Linked DNA regions of Homo sapiens: all the other regions are linked to region 2. The links come from fine-mapping of genetic effects on gene expression. A gene starts in region 2. Each other region holds a variant in brackets. All regions are shown on one strand. Distances are between the middles of the regions.

Region 1 (5,150 bases), 24 kb after region 2:
AGGCACATGCCACCAGGCCCAGCTAATTTTTGTGTTTTTAGTAGAGACAGGGTTTCACCATGTTGGCCAGGCTGGTCTTGAACTCCTTGACCTCAAGTGATCCTCCTGCCTCAGCCTCCCAAAGTGCTGGGATTACAGGTGTAAGCCACCGTGCCCCACCAACCTGAGCCTTTTTTAACTGGCCAGCTGGGCCCAAGAGTATTATCGTGTCTCCTAAAAATGACTGATACAGTTTTTTTAATTAGTTTCCTATGGCTGCCATGTAATATAGTACCACAAACTAGGTGGCTTAAAACAACAGGAACCTGTTCACTCCCAGTTCCGTAGTCAGAAATCAAGATGTTGGCAGGGTTGGCTCATTTCTGGAAGCTCTGAAGGAGAATCAGTTCCCTGCCTCTCTCCCAGGTTCCTTGGCCTGTGGATACATTGCTCCAGTCTCTGCTGCCATCATCACATGGCATTCTTCTTGCATGTGTGTCTGTGTGTCCCAATTTTGCTCTTCTTATAAGGACACCAATCATTGGATTACGGCTGACCCTAATCCAGCATGATCTCATTTTAACTTGGTTACATCAGTGGAGACCCTATTTTCAAGTAAGGTTATATTCAGAGGTACCATGGGGTTAGGATTTCAAAGCATCATTTTTGGGAACACAATTCAACTTGTAACACTCCTCTTATCCATCTCCCTCCTGGACTATAGTGCTGGCCTCTTACTGTATCTCCCTGGGCCGGGGTCTCCCCTCAGTGACCTTTCCACACCATCAGTAGAATTATCTTACTGTATTGTAAAAAGAATCATACTATCCAGCTTTATTTCCAAAGGCTAAACTCAGTTTGACAGACAGAGCCCTTCACAGACTGTTGTCATTGGAGAGCTGGACCAACGCAGAACAGGGACCTGTCCCCCCTGCACAGGATCATAATTGAAGCCGGACTCGCCTACAAGGCACTGCTAATTAATCTTTCCTCCTACTGGGCGTCTGAATCATTCTGCCCCTAAGAAGATTATTTGGGAGGTGATTGGACTTTTTGCATGATTGTTCCTAGGGATGTTGTCCTTGCCTATCTTCTCAGATGTGGGTTTATTGCATTTTTACTTATTTCCTAAACTTTCAATGGAAGAAGGCAAGATCATCTTCCATAAGGTAGTTAGATTATATTACTCATGAAACTAATAACTTCAAGACTCTCTTTCCTTACTCTACTGTGGCAAAGTACCATATCTCTCTCTTTTTTTATTTTTTTTTTTATTGATCATTCTTGGGTGTTTCTCTCAGAGGGGGATTTGGCAGGGTCATAGGACAATAGTGGAGGGAAGGTCAGCAGATAAACAAGTGAACAAAGGTCTCTGGTTTTCCTAGGCAGAGGACCCTGCGGCCTTCCGCAGTGTTTGTGTCCCTGGGTACTTGAGATTACGGAGTGGTGATGACTCTTAACGAGCATGCTGCCTTCAAGCATCTGTTTAACAAAGCACATCTTGCACCGCCCTTAATCCATTTAACCCTGAGTGGACACAGCACATGTTTCAGAGAGCACAGGGTTGGGGGTAAGGTCATAGATCAACAGGATCCCAAGGCAGAAGAATTTTTCTTAGTACAGAACAAAATGAAAAGTCTCCCATGTCTACTTCTTTCTACACAGACACAGCAACCATCCGATTTCTCAATCTTTTCCCCACCTTTCCCCCTTTTCTATTCCACAAAACCGCCATTGTCATCATGGCCCGTTCTCAATGAGCTGTTGGGCACACCTCCCAGACGGGGTGGTGGCGGGACAGAGGGGCTCCTCACTTCCCCGTAGGGGCGGCGGGGCAGAGGCGCCCCTCACCTCCCAGACAGGGCGGCTGGCCGGGCAGGGGCTGACCCCCCACCTCCCTCCCGGACGGGGTGGCTGCCGGGCGGAGACGTTCCTCACCTCCCAGACGGGGTCGCGGCCAGGCAGAGGTGCTCCTCACATCCCAGACCGGGCGGCGGGGCAGAGGCGCTCCCCACATCTCAGACGATGGGCGGCCGGGCAGAGACGCTCCTCACTTCCTAGATGGGATGGCGGCCCGGAAGAGGCGCTCCTCACTTCCTAGGTGGGATGGCGGCCGGGCAGAGACGCTCCTCACTTTCCAGACTGGGCAGCCAGGCAGAGGGGCTCCTCACATCCCAGACCATGGGCGGCCAGGCAGAGAGGCTCCTCACTTCCCAGACGGGGTGGCGGCCGGGCAGAGGCTGCCATCTCGGCACTTTGGGAGGCCAAGGCAGGCGGCTGGGAGGTGGAGGTTGTAGCGAGCCGAGATCACGCCACTGCACTCCAGCCTGGGCACCATTGAGCACTGAGTGAACGAGACTCTGTCTGCAATCCCGGCACCTCGGGAGGCCGAGGCTGGCGGATCACTCGCGGTTAGGAGCTGGAGACCAGCCCGGCCAACACAGGGAAACCCCGTCTCCACCAAAAAAATACGAAAACCAGTCAGGCGTGGCGGCGCGTGCCTGCAATCGCAGGCACTC[G/T]TCAGGCTGAGGCAGGAGAATCAGGCAGGGAGGTTGCAGTGAGCCAAGATGGCAGCAGCACAGTCCAGCTTCGGCCCGTGGAAAGAGGGAGAGGGAGACCGTGGGGAGAGGGGGAGGGGGAGGGGGACCATATCTCTTGTGAATTTATTTCCTGGGAAAGCATGTGGAGTGCGGAGTGTGTGTGTGTGTGTGTGTGTGTGTGTGTGTCTGTGTGTGTGTGGTGGAGGGTGAAAGTATTTTACTTGAGGATAAAGATTGATGCAAATAATATTCAGATAGAGTTCAATAGGGTTAAAACAATGTTAAGTGTCTTCCTTGCCAGTTTGCTGTCTTAGGTTTTGCTTTACCTACGTTTTTCTCTGATAGAGGAAAAATAAAATAATCAATTCCCAGGGTTAAGTGACTGAGTCCCCAAGAAGATCTTAAAGAAGACAGCCATTTGCCTAAGTAGTTAAATCCCAGTTAAATTTTAGTAGCATGATCTATCTCTATGCAGAGAGGTAAAGAAAGAACCAAATGATGTCATTTCTATCTAAAAAGTACCCTTCAGTGGCAGGGCGCGGTGGCTCACGCCTGTAATCCCAGCACTTTGGGAGGCTGAGGTGGGCGGATCACGAAGTCAGAAGTTCGAGACCAGCCTAGCCAATATGGTGAAACCCCATCTCTACTAAAAATACAAAAATTAGCCAGGTGTGGTGATGTGCGACTGTAGTCCCAGCTACTCAGGAGGCTGAGGCAGAAGAATCGCTTGAACCTGGGAGGTGGAGGTTGCAGTGAGCCAAGATCGAGCCACTGCACTCCAGCCTGGGTGACAGAGCAAGACTCCCTCTCAAAAAAACAAAAAAGGACCCTTCAGTATAAGAGCTGTCCATGTAGCAGCTCTCAACTTAGTCCAGTGAGTTAAAGTGTGAGATTGGATTAGTAATCCTTTAATTTAAAGTCGTGTGACCTCAGCCAAGTGACCGTCTTCAATCCTCAGTACCCTAGGCTGTGCGAAAAGCATATGGTACAATTCCTGGTGGAATAATGTTCAATAAATGTCAAATGCTATTATTATTTTGTGATTATATGAATGACCCGAGAAAGGGTCCCACCTGCATCCAAGTACATTTATACTTCTTAATAACCAAAGTGCCTTCATGAGAATGCTGGTAGAAACTGCATAAGGGTGTGTTTTTTTGCTTTTGTTTTTGTTTGAGATGGGGGTCTCACTCTGTCACTCAGGTTTGAGTGCAGCGGCGCCATCTTAGCTCACTACAATCTCTGCCTCCCAGGCTCATGTGATCCTTCCACCTCAGCCTCCCAAGAATCTGGGACCACAGGTGTGAACCACCATGCCTGGCTAATTTTTTGCCTTTTTTGGTAGAGACGGGGTTTCACCGCCTTGCCCAGGCTTGTCTTGAACTCCTGACCTCAGGTGATCCGCCCACCTCAGCCTCTCAAAGTGCTGGGATTGCAGGTGTGAGCCACTGTTCACAGCCCTGCATGAGGGTCTTTGATTACAACTGATATTTTCTATTGTTGAGTGATGGCCTTTTTATAAGTTGCCCTTTCAGTGACACAAAGGAGGAATGTGCAACTGAGTAGAACAATTTTAGAGAAAATGTAGATTATGTGTTAATTAGACTGAAGCTGTGCCTACTTCCAGAGAGTATGAGGCAGTTTAGAAGGTAAAACACAGTATTTTACTGGGAGTAAGACAGAATTTTTATTTAGCGTATATACAGCAGAAATAGAAAGGGAACAGAAAAAGCCTGGAATGAGGCAAGTGTTAAAATGGGCAGTTCTAGCAAACAGAACCGAATAAGGAACAGTCAAAACAGTGATGGGGGGGCCAACCTTGAGGAGAAATTGAGTGTTGTTTGGGGACTTTTTTTTTTTTTGAGATGTCGCATACAGTACTTAGTGTTGGTTGGATGGATGACTCTTACATTTTCCATATAGTTATTCTGTCATAAATACTCAAACAAAATGAGGGATTTAAACTGTAATTAGAGCTCTTTTCTGAGACATCTGTCTGTAACATTTCTCTTTTTCCCACAATTAGGTGAAAATGAAATCCTTGCAACTCTGCATGCCATTTCAAGCAAAAACCAGATCTGGAGATCGTATATTGGCATGGGCTATTATAACTGCTCAGTGCCACAGACGATTTTGCGGAACTTACTGGAGAACTCAGGATGGTAATGTATTTCTCAGTTCAGGAACAGGATGACTGTGATTTGCATAATTCTCTCCATCCTCCATCTGTCCCCTTGCAGTCTCAGAGCCTCCACACTGACACCCACCTCCTAGTGCTGTCTCCAATGTCCGGGAACCTACCGGGTTTCTCTGGATCGAGAAATGTTCTTGCTCAAATGTTGAGGAAATAGAAGTTTCTTCCCACTTCCAGTCCCATAAAATCTACTAGGATGCTAAATTGTGGATCTGGTCATCTCTTCCTCTTCTGCAGCTTAATTTCTGTGCTGTATTTGAGTAAGATGTGAAACCTGCAGGTGGGCAGATTCAGGCCTTTACTCCTCCTTGGAGACCCTGGGACATAGGCTACTTCTGAGCTATCTCATTGAGTCATTGGTGGAGTCTGGGAGAGAATCTTGGTCCACTGTCTTCTCTCAGGATTCCCCGCCTACCACCCTGCCCAGACGGAGTCTT
Region 2 (5,150 bases):
GTGATCCGCCCACCTTGGCCTCCCAAAGTGTTGGGATTACAGGCGTGAGCCACCGCGCCCGGCCAATTTTTGTATTTTTAGTAGAGATGGGATTTCACCCTGTTGGCCAGGCTGGTCTCAATCTCCTGACGTCAAGTGATCCGCCAGCCTTGGCCTCCCAAAGTGCTGGGATTACAGGCATGAGCCACCACGTCCGGCTCTTGGGTTTTTATAGAGGCTTTATTAGGAAGGCATGATTGATTAAGCATTGATCATTGACCCTCTGCCCTACTGAGAAGTTGAGGGTGGGGCTGAAAGTCTCAACTCCCATTATGTCTTTGTCTTTCCAGTGACCAGCCCTATTCTGAAGCTGTTAGTCACATTAGCATACAAAAAGGCAGGAGTCTGGAGATTCCCAAGACTTTAGGAGTTGCAGGCCAGGAAATGGGATGAATACCAGATATGTATTTCACAACATCACACAGACAAATAAACAAAAAACACTCAATGCATTTCAAGCAGAGGAGAATTAAATGTCAGGAATGGGTGCATACAAAACCACTGGAAGAACTGGAAGAGCAAAAACCAGGGAATACCAACGCTATCTTCAGGTCAACCACTGAAGCTCTAGTCTAGTACACAGAAATTCCTGCTGGGGAACTGCAGGACATTCCCATTGGTGGATACAGCTTCCCAGCTACCTCAAGATGGGGTGCTGGTAAGGAAGCATGTCATGTCTGCAGTGGTCCATGCATCTGTCTGCTGCAGTCAGAAAATAAGAAAACAGTTTTTACCTTTGTTCCATTTCCCAATTCTCTCTCTCTCTCTTTTTTTTTTTTTAGGCAGAGTCTTGCTCTATCACCCAGGTTGGAGTGCAGTGGTGCGCTCTCCGCTCACTGCAACCTCTGTTTCCCAGGTTCAAGTGATTCTCATGCCTTAGCCTCCTGAGTAGCTAGGACTACAAGCACGCCCACCAAACTTGGCTAAATTTTTTTTCATATTTGTAGTAGAGATTGAGTTTCGCCATCTTGGCCAAGCTGGTCTTGAACTCCTGTCCTCAAGTGACCTGCCCGCCTCGGCCTCCCAAAGTGCTGGGATTACAGGAGTGAGCCACCGCACCCGGCCCCAATTCTCATATACATATATGTGTGTATATATACATGTTTTTTTTTGGCAGAAGGCAAATAACATCCATCACCACGGAGCCAAAGGGATCTGGGAATTATTGTTCCCTGGCTTCCAGTCCCTCTGATACATAGAAACAACATAGACAGGAATAGGAATAAATGCAGATTACCTCCTCCCTCCAATCCTTCCCCACAACCCCCACCATCTGGCACTGAGGAGATCTCCCAACTTTTATGAAGGTTGTAATTTCAATTCCAAATGGCCGAAAAACTTTTCGGAGACATTCAGCCCAGCCGTCCTAGCTCACCACCCGCCTCCGTCTGCCATACAGACATTTTACCTACTGTTCTTTGTGGTGTATTTTCCTGCCCTCTTTTCCATCTCTACTTTCCTGCCTCTCTGGATAGTCTGTGCCTCCTGGGTACGGAGCCCAGAATCTGTTAAGGGTGATTGGAGGAGGAAACTTAGCAGATAAGCAAGAAAGAGAACAGGTTTTATTTTCCCCTAGTCTAAGTACAAGTAATGTTCTGATTACTTCTGTCCTCTCTTCCCCATATTAGAACAACTGGAATTTTAAAAGTTCATTCTCTTGCTAAAACTGTCATGAGACAGCTGGAGATGGTACATTTACAAAAAATCCAGTTCTAGATGGCTAACTTTCAAAGTAAGACGACAGTGAACAATGTCTATCTTAATATCCTTTGTACTTTTGCTGGGCGCAGTGGCTCACGCCTGTAATGACGGATCACGAGGTCAGGAGATCGAGACCATCCTGCCTAAAACGGTGAAACCCCGTCTCTACTAAAAATAAAAATAAAAAATGGCCGGCCGTGGTGGCACGTGCCTGTAGTCCCAGCTACTCAGGAGCCTGAGGCAGGACAATCGCTTGAACCCGGGAGGTGGAGGTTGCAGTGAGCCAAGATCGCGCCACTGCACTCCAGCCAGGGCGACAGAGCGAGATTCCGTCTCAAAAACAACAACAAAATATCCTTTGTAGTTTTACACACACACGTATATGTATATACAGTACATATATTTAAAAAAACATATACACACACACACACAGTTCTTTTTTTTTTTTTTTTCCTGAGTCTCGTTCTGTGGCCCACGCTGGAGTGCAGTGGTGCGATCACATCTCACTGCAGCCTGAAACTCCCTGACTCAAGCAATCCTCCCACCTCAGCCTCCAGAGTAGCTGGGACTTCAGAAGCACGCAACCACGCCCCACTAATTTTTGTATTTTTTGTAGAGACAGGGTTTCACAATGCTGCCCAAGCTGGTCTCGAACTCCTGGGCTCAAGCTATCCTACCGCGTCGGTTTCCGAAAGTGTTGCGATTACAGGCGTGAGCCATAGCGTTACATGTGGTGGGGGGGAAGAGAGAGAAAGAGAGAGAGTGAGAAGAAGGAGGAGGAGGAGGAGGAGGAGAAAGAAGGAAGAAAGAAAAGAAAAGAAATATAGAGAGGGTGTTCAAATCTACTGTTCAAGTGCTTTCCATGTACATATAATCTCTTTTTAAAATCCCATCCAGCTCTGTTGAGATGAGAAAACTGAAGCTCTGAGAGGTTGAGTAACTTTATCACGCTCCCGCAAAGATAAAAGAACCGCCATCTGCCCATATTAATTTCCCTGAGATGAAATGTGACAGAGAAAGATACCTCAAAATTAAGGAAATGGAGAGCTTCGAGAATCATCTTCCATCTCCGCCGAGTCCCCCAGGAACTTGGCCCGGAGTCTTTGGGCTGTCCCACCTGATCTTGCCCCAGTGCGGCTCCACACCCTGGCGGGCGGCGTACGGAGCGTCCCGGCCCCCGGCACCAGCCAGCGTCGGAGTGGGTAGGACTGGAGATGGCAGCCTCCGGTCCAGGGGAAGCGGGACTCCACGGAAGGGCTGGGAAGAGGGTAGGAAGAGGGGGCGGGGGCGGGAACTGTTCCGCCCCCTCCCCCTCTGTCTACTTTCATTGGCCAAGGGCTTCCTGGCCCCAACCCACCTCCCGCCTCCAGGGCGCCGCTTAAAGTGTGCGGAGCAGGTGCCTTGGGTGGAGCCACAACTTTGCGCGAGTGTCTTGGTTGAGCGCAGCGCCCATTCATTGCCCGCGAGCGTCCATCCATCTGTCCGGCCGACTGTCCAGCGAAAGGGGCTCCAGGCCGGGCGCAGCCGCCACCCGGGGGACCGAGGCCAGGAGAGGGGCCAAGAGCGCGGCTGACCCTTGCGGGCCGGGGCAGGGGACGGTGGCCGCGGCCATGCAGTCCTGTGCCAGGGCGTGGGGGCTGCGCCTGGGCCGCGGGGTCGGGGGCGGCCGCCGCCTGGCTGGGGGATCGGGGCCGTGCTGGGCGCCGCGGAGCCGGGACAGCAGCAGTGGCGGCGGGGACAGCGCCGCGGCTGGGGCCTCGCGCCTCCTGGAGCGCCTTCTGCCCAGACACGACGACTTCGCTCGGAGGCACATCGGCCCTGGGGACAAAGACCAGAGAGAGATGCTGCAGACCTTGGGGCTGGCGGTAAGGACCTCCACCCGGCCCTCCGCGGCCTCCCCTCCGCCCTGCCCGGGCTCTGCCTGCGCGGCCTCCCGGCTCCTACCCTGAGCTCTGCTGCGCTCCGCGTGGTCCCCGCACCCTGGGTCCCGGGCCGTGGCGTGGAAGCAAATTCGTGCCTTTGGTCCTCGTGCCTTCTTACTTCTTAACAGCTTACTTTCTCCTGCACCCAGTCTTCGTGCCTCAAAAGTGTACATTTTTAAACCACCCCCAGCCCAAGTGGCCCTGTGGATGGACCTAAACTTTGCAAGAGGAGGAAGACCCCCTGATTAAGAGTGGGCTTACCGGTTAGCTCCGGTTGCAACTGAAATCCAACCCCGAGTGGCGGAATCTCCACCCCACTTCACGATTTTCTTTCCTCCAAATCATTCTGGCTTGCTCAGAGTTTTCCTTTTCTTTTAAAAAGAACCCTAATTAGGCGATTTCAATGAGGTTCCCACAAGGCTTTGTAGTCGCAAAACACAGAGGTGACTCTTTTAACTCAGAGGCACTTTCCTCTGCCTTGCGTTTTAATTTTAGAGCATTGATGAATTGATCGAGAAGACGGTCCCTGCCAACATCCGTTTGAAAAGACCCTTGAAAATGGAAGACCCTGTTTGTAAGTGGCCGGGAGGGCTCCCTTGGACTTAGATTATTCTGGCCTATTTGTCTTTTGTGGTTCCCTGAAAATCGAGCTCTGGGGTAAGGATTGCTCAGGACTGGGAATGTGTGGATTAAAATAAAACAGTGGCGGGTACCTCCGGAGCCGCGGGAAGGTGGGATATTTGGTTCTCGGAGCAGACAGTTTTGTGTTAGGAGAGAGTCGGTGTTGTGCGGTTCTTGGTCTTTATCCTAGGGCCCCCGCGAGCTTCCCCTGCGTTTTGTAGCAGATTCCCCACTTCCCAGGCACCCTCTCACCGGCCAGGGTGCTCTCATACTTTGGGTTGAGAGGTGTCATTACCTGCGCAGACCCGGATAGACTCAAAGGATCTAGGAATTGCCTAAGGTCGTGCAACTGGGGAAGTGACCAGACATCTCGCCTCCCTCCCCCAGGCTTCTTTAGATCGCAGTATCTTCCAATTGTTTTCTTACCTCACGTCCAAATTTTATTATTTACCAACTGAAAGACAGCAGTACTTTTCGAGTCCGAATGGTTTTTCTTTTCTTTTCTTTTTTTTTTCGTTTTTTTTTTTTTTTTTTTTTGAGACAGAATCTCTGTCGCCCAGGCTGGAGTGCTGTGGCTTGATCTCGGCTCACTGCAACCTCCGCCTCCCTGGTTCAAGCAATTCTCCTGCCTCAGCCTCTTGACTAGCTGGGATTACAGGGGCGCACCACCACACCAGGCTCATTTTTATATTTTTATTAGAGACAGGGTTTCTTCATGTTGGCCAGGCTGGTGTCGAACTCCTGACCTCAGGCAATCCGTCTGCCTCGGCCTCCCAAAATGCTGGGATTACAGGCACGAGTCACTGTGCCCTACCCCGAATGGTTTTTCTAGAAAAACACACAAATAAGATTTACATTTGTTTAAGA
Region 3 (5,150 bases), 46 kb after region 2:
CAGCCTGGCCAACATGGTGAAACCCCATCTCTACTAAAAATACAAAAATTAGCTGGGCGTGGTGTCAGGAGGCTGATGCAGTAGAATCGTTTGAAACCAGAAGGCAGAGGTTGCAGTGAGCCGAGATCACGCCATTGCACTCCAGCCTGGGCGAAAGAGCGAAACTCCGTCTCAAAAAAAAAAAAAAAAATCAGTAATCATGTTTAGATGAGGAACGTTTAGAAATTGTTTCTTTATAAATTTGCACCCAAGTGCATTTGCTGAATTCACTTCAAGCTGGGAAGGAAAGAAGTAATTCTATTTATAGCATCTCCCAGTGCTGTGATTATCTGTGCTAACTGGATGCCTTATTCTTGGTGTAGAGATGCCACTGGGAAAGAAGTGTATCGTCTTGCTCTTCAAACCAGGGAGCAACACATTCGGAGAGACAAGGCTACCAGCAACATCTGTACAGCTCAGGTAAATCACACGTCTGACCTGACTACTGAATGCCTTACGATACACAGAAATGAGCTACTCATTCATTCATTCATTTGTTCATTTATTCACCACCTCCTGAGCAGTGAGCACACCAGAAATGGCAAGATCTTATTGGTGTAGAAGGCTCATTGTCTTATGAGAACCAAAATACAGTATTGGCTGGGTACGGTGGCTCATGCCTGTAATCCCAGCACCTTGTGAGGCCAAGGCAGGCAGATTGCTGGAGCCCAGGAGTTGGAAACCTGCCTGGGCGACATGGCGAAACACCATCTCTATGAAAAATAAAATAAAATAAATTAGCCGTCAGTGGTGGTATGCTCCTGTAGTCCCAGGTGCTAGGGAGGCTCAGGTGGGAGGATCACCAGAATCTGGGAGGTTGAGGCTGCAGTGAGCCATGATTATGCCACTGCACTCCAGCCTGAGTGACAGAGGGAGACTCTGTCCCCAACTCCTGCCCCCACAAAAAAAGTTAAAGAAAAAGACACTGTGTTTTACTGGTGTTCTTTATATGTACACCATTTGCCTATGCTTTCTCTTCACCATACATGTTTTAATACTAAAAAAAATAAAAAGCATTATTTGTTTCATTTTACCCATAATCACATCTTCAGATCCTGAACAGGCAAAGCGTAAGAAAGGACAAAAAAGGCCAGTCTTCACTTTTATATACAGACTTAAAATATATGTAAATAGAAAGATGGATATCAGGGTCTCTAGTATTCTTGGCGTTGGGCCAGGTTTGTTATGGGTGGCAGTTGAGACACCCTCTCTTAGGACTGAGAAGGAGCCTCTCCAGGAATGGGTTGAGGAAGGCAAAGCAAGGGCATTTGTGATGACTGTGCTTGAGGGGATGGTGGTAGTCATGAGGCACTCTTACTGGGAGATTATGACTGGCATTCTTTTTTTTGTTTTTTCGAGACAGAGTTTTACTCTGTCGCCCAGGCTGGAGTGCAGTGGCGCAATCTCAGCTCACTGCAACCTCTGCTGCCCGGTTTCAAGCAATTCTCCTGCCTCAGCCTCCTGAGTAACTGGGATTACAGGCGCCTGCCACAGCGCCAGGCTAGTTTTTGCATTTTTAGTAGAGACGGGGTTTCACCATCTTGGCCAGGTTGGTCTTGAACTCCTGACCTCATGATCCACCCACCTCGGCCTCCCAAAGTGTTGGGATTACAAGCATGAGCCACTGCACCTGGCCATGTCTGGCATTCTTTAAAAGGATGGGATAAAACAGGAAGAGCTTCCTGGGTTCTGACCAGGGTTCTGGGTTCTGCTCCTTGAAGTTGCTCCAGGGCTTAGGTCGAAGTGTTTGTGAAACCCAGCCAAACCCTAGGATCAGTTGGAGGCCCACTCCTGAGCACAGGATCCATTCTAAGTGCATCTCTTTTTTTTTTTCTTCTTCTTTTTTTTTCTTCTTTGAGATAGAGTCCTGTTCCTGCGTCACCCAGGTTGGAATGGGGTGGCGCAATCTTGGCTCACTGCAACCTCTGCCTCCTGGGTTCAAGTGATTCTTGTGCCTCAGCCTCCTAAAGAGCTGGAATTACAGGCCACCACACCCAGATAATTTTTGTATTTTTAGTAGAGGCAGGTTTCATCATGTTGGCCAGGCTGGTCTCAAACGCCTGACCTCAAGTGATGGTCCTGCCTGGGCCTCCCAAAATTTTGGGATTGTAGGTGTGAGCCATGGCACCTGGCTTCTTTTTTTTTTTTTTTCTTGAGACAGATTCTTGCTCTGTTGTCCATTCTGGAGTGCAGTGGCATGGCCATAGCTCACTGCAGCCTCAACCTTCAACCTCCAGGGCTCAAATTATTCTCCGGTCTCAGCCTCCTAAGTAGCTGGGACTATGGGTACATTCCACCACGCCCAGCTAATTTTCAAAAAAATGTTTTGTAGAGGCGAGGTCTCACTTTGTTGCTCAGGTTGGTCTCAAATTCCTGAGCTCAAGTGATCCTATCTTGGCCTCCCATAGTGATAGGATTATAGGCATGAGCCACCGTGCCTGGCCACTGTAATTGCATCTCTTCCATGAAGTGTCAGAGAGAGATGTCACAGGTGCTTCAATGGGAGGTAGAGTGCTCTTTCGTCTCAGGGCTTTGGCGTCTAGAACCACCTCTGAAAAGCTTCTCCAGGAAGGCAGTGGGCAATAAGATCTTCTTATAGTTGGTTCTGCAGCCACGGGTCTTTGGAGCCATTTCCTCAGTTGGTCCTTTTGTATTATGTTTTGCCTCAGGAAGGTGCCACCTCTTTTCAAATATGAGCTCTTCCAGTATGATAGGAAGGAAAG[G/C]TGGTTGGCACAGGCTTTTCCTCTGTTGAACAGCAAGCTGATCTTTATTTATTTATTTGTTTTTTTGGTTGTTTTTTTTTTTTTTGAGATGGAGTCTTGCTCTGTCACCCAGGCTGGCATGCAGCGGCCCAATCTCAGCTCACTGCAACCTCTGCCTTCCAGTTTCCAGCGATTCTCTTGCCTCAGCCTCCTGAGTAGCTGGGATTACAGGCGCCTGCCACCATGCCCAACTAATTTTTCTATTTTTAGTAGAGACAGGGTTTCACCATGTTGGTCAGGCTGGTCTCGAACTCCTGATCTCATGATCTGCCCACCTCGGCCTCCCAAAGTGCTGGGATTACAGGCATAAGCCGCCATGCCTGGCCACATGGTGATCTTTATATGGTGGCCTCACTTTCTGTAGCTTACCCTCCATTTGTTGAATTCTCTGCTTACGTTTTCCCTTTCGGTGCAGCTGACTGCTCCTGTCTTGCTGTTTCTCCTCAGGTTCCTCCAGGTTTCCGTCTGATCATAAGTCCATTTAGGGCCTCAGTTTTCTGCCTCTAGGTTCATTTTCCAGGTGAATTTGGGCTGTCTGCAGTGAACCAGTTATGTTCCTGTTTCTTTCTTTTTTTTTTTTTTGAGACGGAGTCTTTCTCTTGTTGCCCAGGCTGGAGTGCAATGGCGTGATGTCGGCTCACTGCAACCTCCGTCTTCCGGGTTCAAGCGATACTCCTGCCTCAGCCTCCTGAGTAGCTGGGATTACAGGCACCCACGACCATGCCTGGCTAATATTTTTTGTATTTTTAGTAGAGATGGGGTTTCACCATGCTGGCCAGGCTGGTCTCGAACTCCTGACCTCAGGTGATCCGCCCGCCTTGGCCTCCCAAAGTGCTGGGATTACAGGCATGAGCCATTGTGCCCGGCCTTATGTTCCTGTTGCTTAATTTCTTCCAGTTCATGTATAGCTGATAATTTATTATTTAACTTGGGTTGAAAGGTCTGTATCTTTTCCAGCAATTGTTAAAATGTTTGCCCTGGAGATGGCCATACTCCAGCTTGTCTGATTTTCATCCTCTTATTCTGATGATCTTCTAACTCTTCACTGTCTATTTCACTGCATATGTGCCTTTTCATAGTTGATTGCATACAAGAATTACTCATAACTCCAGTTTCACTCTTTGTGAGCATGCAAGTCTCCCTGTTTTGTTAGGAGATGACTGGTGTCTTTTGAGTTGTTCCTTTTGTGCTGTAGGTCTTTGACCCCCGCCTTCTGTTGTAGCAGCTGTTCCACATTCTTCTCACTCTTGCTCTTCTCTCTTGTCACTGGGGTGGGTGGGGGAGTCCACTCTTAGTTTCGCATCGTGGATGGGGCATGACTCTTTTTTAATCTCTGAAAGTGTGTTAATGATTCTTTTTTAAATAAATTTTTCTATAGGGAGTCTCTCTGAGCCTATTCTGGCTCAGCAGGCCCCATTCTAAAACAAAACTGAAAAAACAGGGTGCGGTGGCTCACACCTGTAATCTCAACACTTTAGGAGGCCAAGGCAGGAGGATTACTTGAGTTCAGCAGTTTAAATCCATCCCAGGCAACATAGTGAGACTCCTGTCTATATAAAAAAAGTACAAAAATTAGCCAGGTGTTGTGGTACACACCAGTATCCCAGCTACTCAGTAGACTGAGGTGGTAGGAGTGCTTGAGCTGGGGAGGTCCAGGCTGCAGTGAGCTGCAATCACACCACTGCACTCCAACCTGGGTGACAGAATCAGACCCCACCTCTACAAAACAAAAAGGAAAAGAAACAATTTTTTCTATAAATTTGTGGCATTACTACAGATGTCTGAATTTTCATTATGTTCTGTTCTTTATATTCTCTTATTTCTTTTTTTTTTGGAGACGAGTCTCGCTCCATCGCCCAGGCTGGAGTGCAGTAGCGCCATCTCGCTCACTGAAGCTCTGCCTCCCGGGTTCACGCCATTCTCCTGCCTCAGCCTCCTGTGTAGCTGGGACTACAGGTGTCTGCTACCATGCCTGGCTAATTTATTGTATTTTTAGTAGATACAGGGTTTCACCATGTTAGCCAGGATGGTCTCGATCTCCTGACCTCATGATCCACCTGCCTCAGCCTCCCAAAGTGCTGGGATTACAGGCGTTAGCCACCATGCCCGGCCATATATTCTCTTATTTCTTAGCTTCTACCACAATGAGCAGCTCTTTCATTGGCTTTTCTTATTTTTAATATAAAAATCTTTTTAAAATAGAGATGGGAGTCTTACTTTGTTGCCCAGGCTAGTATTGATCTCCAGGCCTCAAGCGATCCTCCTGCCTCAGCCTCCCAAAGTGTTGGGATCACTGGTGTGAGCCACTGCATCCAGCCTTGTTGGCTTTTCTAAAGTCAGGTGTAGTAA
Region 4 (5,150 bases), 950 kb after region 2:
GCTCATGAAATGGTACAAAGCTTGTTAGACAATTCAAGTATTTTAAGAAGAAACAAAATATATAATTTATTATATATTTATAAGGCATATTTATAAATATACATTAATATACGTAAGAGAATTTAATTTGTAAGATTCCCCTCTAAAAGTGTTGAAATTTGCTAGATTTACGAATAGATTTTTAAGATTTGTAGATGGAACTTAAAAGTTTGAGCTACAGTTATTATTTTGAAGCTCTAATAAATTGAATATTTTTAATCCAAAGTAAACTCTAAATAAATATTCAGATTTTTTACTTTGAAAACACAAAATCACAAATGAACAAAAAGAAATGAAACAGCTGAATACATTATGGGATAGGCAAAAGGGATTAATCCCATTATAATCCCCTCAATAATGTTCTAAATTTCTATCTATTTGAGATTAACTGGGGCTAACAAAAACAAACTAACAAAATTTATAGAACTAGCTAAGAAGTGTCGGTCATTCCCAGCTCAGTATTGGTTAATCAGGTGCTCTCCCTACAAGCCATGGCAGAATTTGTGAAGGAAAGAACAGAAATGTCAATGAAGGAAACTTGGTGGGGTTGGGTGGGGACAGCCCATGGAACGATGACCCTGAGAGACAAGAAACCAGTGAAAGGAAAAAAAAAAAAAAAAGTAGGAATTTTTTTCTTAATGCAGTTTCGGATCAATTGTGTGACAGTTTTCTTAATGCATTCAAAGTTGTTGTGGTTCTTAAAGCCAAGAGGTTTACACATCACTGACTATATAAAACTAATTCTGTAGACAATTTGTCTTATTTACAGATAGATAACTTTCAGATATGCTTTAAAGTTTAATCTTGGTAAACCACCACTAATTTTAATACTGTATATGAAATCCAATAATATAATTTAGTTTCAGAATCAGAGTGAACATACATCAGAAAGTGTTGTAAATCTCAGATTATTGCAAAAATCTAACATGTGAAAAATCCAACAATTACATTTTATTTACAAAAATTGATTTACATAGGATTTGTTAAAATCCAATTTATGAAACAGAACAAATCTAGAGACACTAGGTTGCCCTTACCACTTGTGTGGAATTTGTCTCTCTAGAAAGTTTTATAAAATGTTGCTTTTATATTTTAGTTATATATGCAATATACAAACAGTTTTTTGAAAAAAAAAAAAAGACATTGAAATAAATGTAAGCTATACATACATTTAAGAAAGATGAATAAAAACATTTACCCACTAATTCCAGTTCAGAATTGCAGGTGGCCACGGCCCATCCCAGCAGCTTGGGGCCAAAGCTGAAGCCCACCTTGGACCAGATGTCATTCCATTGGAGGGCGCACTCACACACATACCCCACACTCGCTCAGACTGGGGCCATGCAGATGCTGATTCACCCAAAGCGTACATCTTTGGGATGTGGGAGGAAACTACAGTACTACACAGACATAGGGAGAATATGAAAATTCCATATTGACAGTGGCCCTGGCCAGGGATCAATTTTTTTCCCTCATCGATGTTATGACATTATTCAAGGATATGATGTAAGGAGTTTCTCGCTATATTAAAGAAGCTATCTTTGTTAATACTTGGAATTTTCAAGTATTGTATAAATGAATACTCTGCCTAAGTTCCCCAGAGGAGTCAAGTCTGTTATTGCTTACATTTGATACATGACTCAATCTGAGACTTGCTTTTGAACAAGTACACCTGTATTTTTTGGCAACCTCTTAAAGTTTTGTCATTCTTCAAATTCTAGTTCACTCTAAAACCTCGCAGTTAATGAACTAGAATCCCCTTCTTTTTTAAACACTTATAAATTGTCATAAATATGCAATGGAGGCACATTATATTTACATAATTCAGAAGGCAACCTAGACAACAATACCAGTTGCAACTTATTAAGAATCTAATCACTCATTTTTCTCATTTTATAGACACACAGCACAGAAAGCAACTTTAGAAAATGGCTTTTCCAAAGTCTTGGGAAAAAGCAGAATCTGAACTGGAACCTGGGCCTCTCTGATTCCAACTGCCATATTTTTTTCCACATCTCTAAACTGCTGGATATTTATCTGAGGTATCAATAGCAAGTCTAAGAAAAATATCACAAGAAAGTAGGAAAAATGAAGCTAAGCCGGTTTTATTAATGTATTTTCCATACATTAACTTTTGTAACTAAAAGTAAAGCCTCCCAGTTTTCTATTCCAATGAATGATAAGGCATTCATGTTAATGAGTGGCCCTTAAAGGGCCATGAAAAAAATAAAATGTTTCTATGGGATGGGTCAACCACTAGTCAAACTTCCCAGGACACTGAGCGGGGAGTAATTTCTCATCAAATTGGTAAAAACCAAAAATCAAACCACAATACCAAGTGTAGCATAAAAACTACACAGAAGTCTTAAAAGAAAAGAAGACTGCTTTTAAAGCATGTCAAG[T/C]ATGCTTTGAGGGCTAGATCAGGTGATACAGAAAACTGATTCACAAATTCAACAGCCATTTCTTTGAGCAAATTCTTCTGTGCAGGAGATACCAAATGCTTTAAGTGCCAGCTAAAGAAAAGAATAATGTGGCAAATAACCTAATAGATTTGGGGTGTGGGGGAACAGAAACTTCAAGAATGCAATTAATTATAGTGTTTTTCCTTGCAACATAACTTACCTAAGTCCTGACTTCTCTCCCAAGTATAGAACTCAAGTCTCCTTATCTACAAAACTTCCCTTGACAACTAATCACTTTACCCTGAAATGCTATTATGACTTTTCAAGATATTTACCTGGCAATCTGTTATTTTATATTGCCATTAACTTTAAACAATTATTCATTAGCATCTTCAGTAGCAGTGTATAGCAAGTGTTTTACAGATAGCAGGCATACAATAAATGAGGATGAATCCATTTGAGATGATTCTGAAATGTGCAAGGCTTGATCTAGAAAGTTCTGGCAGTCCTATGTAAATTCTGGGACTAAGAGGCTTTAGTTCTCCAACCATAATTCTGGAAAGGCTCAGAACGATTTCTTTTCCTAAAACTCCAGGCCTCATATTTCATCATTTGCATTCATCATTGTTTACTGGAATGCTTACAATAATAAAAAGTATTTTTGGATGAAATGAAATAATGATATCTTGGATGTGCTTAAATATACTCCAGTGGAAAAAGACTGAAAATTGTTCAAACTGACTGATGGACACACAGATGGTCATTTTATTATTCTACTAATAGAGTACCTGGTACCAAACTAGTGCCCAGAAACAAGAGAACTGGACAAAATAGATCAACCAACCATATTCAGACATGAGACAGCAGGCAGCACAGGACTGATATCATGAGGGAAGGAAAACAAACAGGTTTTCTGGCAGAAGTCACCATCTAACCTCTTAAGGTTTTGTCCATCATGTAGAGTGAGAGAAACCAAGCATAGTATGGCAGCCTTGTTAAGTTGAGGAGAAAAAGATTAAAGTTCAGAGAAGCAGAAGCAGCTATTTGTGAAGCAGAGCACCAGTGATGTGGGAGCCACACAGAGAAAAGCTCTAGAAACCTGCAGGGGTTTCCCGAGTCTTACTGAATACTATCCAAATACATAGTGACACTCCACAAATACAGGCAAAGAATGACTACTAGGGTTTTTGGCTACCCAGTTCATATAGGACTGGGAGACATTTCGGTTCTGACTAGCCAGAATGGAGAGACCTTCTTAAAGACCTAGGACATTCAGTGGACTTCAGAAGGGCTAAGCTAGCTTAACAGTTAAATCCATCCTAAAAGACATACAAAAAGCCTCAAAAGATCAGTAAGATCTCCAAGCAGCTTACCTGCCACCCAAAACAACCTTCAATACTCTTTAAAGGAAAAGGACAAAAATCAGACAATGGATAATGTAATACAGTATCTAACATCCAATCTGAAATTACTAGACATGTGATATGACCCAGCAATTCTATTCCTAGGTATTTATTTACTCAAGAGATACAGGACAACTGGAGAGTGAAATGAGATTAGAATCTAAAAAAGCAAAGTTCACATTTTTTTACTTTTTATCTTTATAGATCTCTCATTGTTGGATTTTTTTTTAAGTAAGAAGGTATTGATGAATTAGTAGTGTAAATTTTTAAAACATACTATGGGAATGCACATGCCAGATCAGTTATTTATTGGGTACAGGGGCGGATATAGGAGAGTTGAGGGCAGAAGGTTTATAGAGTACAACAGATGTCTGACCTGAGCTTGAAAACCAACTCAGATAAATTTCTTACATAAAAAAAGATAGCAGGGGAGTCATACTGAATAGAGCAAATAACAAAGGAATAGAGGCATTAAATAGGAATTGTGGGTTCGATGTGTTCAAGATATGGAGAAAGTAGGTTCTAAATGCCAGGCCAGAGAGCTTGGACTTCGTTTTGGAAAAAAAAAAAAATTGTTATCAATGCAAATGATAAACTTCATTATGTAGGTGAAAGAGACTAGGGGAAGAGAAATGAGTTAGTGAATAAGCTTTTTTAATAGACAAGGAGGAGGACATGAGGGCCCCTAAAAAGACCAATGAGAGTAAAATAGAGTTAAATGAATTCCAGAGGCACTGGAAAACTCTAATCAATCAGTAAAATTTGATGACTGAACAAATATGTAAAGTGAAGAAACAATCCAGAGGAAGAAACAAAGAATTAAAGGTTTTCTACCTCATACAACGTACAAAAGATGATGGTAACTGCAAAAAAGTTTAGCAAAGCAATAGCATGTTTGGCTTGGCAGGGGGTAAGTGAGTGAGGTTTAGACATGAATCTGACATTAAGAAGACATAATAGGCCGGGTGCAGTGGCTCACGCCTGAAATCCCAGCACTTTGGGAGGCCGAGGCAGGCAGATCACTTGAGGTCAGGAGTTCAAGACCATCCTGGCCAACATAGTGAAACCCCGTCTCTACTAAAAATACAAAAATTAGCTAGGTGTGGTGGTGCATGCCTGTAGTCCCAGCTACTCAGGATTGAGACATGAGAATCGCTTGAACCCAGAAGGCGGAGATTGCAGGGAGCCAAGATCACGCCACTGCACTCCAGCACAGGCGACAGAGCGAGACTCTGTCTCAAAAAAAAAAAAAAAAAAAGATATAATAATAATCCAGGAGAAAAGTGACAAGACCTAAACTGAACTA

The links. PIP is the estimated chance that this variant, and not a neighbour inherited with it, causes the effect.
Region 1: its variant is fine-mapped to the expression of GLDC in whole blood (TOPMed, PIP 0.99).
Region 3: its variant is fine-mapped to the expression of GLDC in lung (TOPMed, PIP above 0.99).
Region 4: its variant is fine-mapped to the expression of GLDC in whole blood (TOPMed, PIP above 0.99).

What each region holds. Positions count from the first base shown.
Region 1 is chr9:6,619,715-6,624,864 of GRCh38, reverse strand. It overlaps GLDC (glycine decarboxylase), which reads left to right. Exons shown (of 25, transcript NM_000170.3): 3 at 4,546-4,681. Among named protein-coding and RNA genes, the nearest start is that of GLDC, 23 kb to the left of the region's middle. RefSeq lists an enhancer at 1,162-1,957. The variant G/T (reference allele first, on the strand shown) is at 2,499.
Region 2 is chr9:6,643,700-6,648,849 of GRCh38, reverse strand. It overlaps GLDC (glycine decarboxylase), which reads left to right and starts at 3,121. Exons shown (of 25, transcript NM_000170.3): 1 at 3,121-3,605; 2 at 4,158-4,236. The coding sequence starts at 3,351. RefSeq lists enhancers at 16-571, 572-1,127, 2,114-2,213, 2,264-2,373, 3,354-3,911 and silencers at 3,044-3,293, 3,364-3,563, 3,604-3,673.
Region 3 is chr9:6,597,418-6,602,567 of GRCh38, reverse strand. GLDC (glycine decarboxylase) reads left to right here. Exons shown (of 25, transcript NM_000170.3): 8 at 363-459. Among named protein-coding and RNA genes, the nearest start is that of GLDC, 46 kb to the left of the region's middle. RefSeq lists an enhancer at 3,881-4,120. The variant G/C (reference allele first, on the strand shown) is at 2,763.
Region 4 is chr9:5,695,524-5,700,673 of GRCh38, reverse strand. All of the region lies in intron 3 of RIC1 (RIC1 partner of RAB6A GEF complex), which reads right to left. Among named protein-coding and RNA genes, the nearest start is that of INCR1, 68 kb to the right of the region's middle. RefSeq lists an enhancer at 3,373-3,492. The variant T/C (reference allele first, on the strand shown) is at 2,442.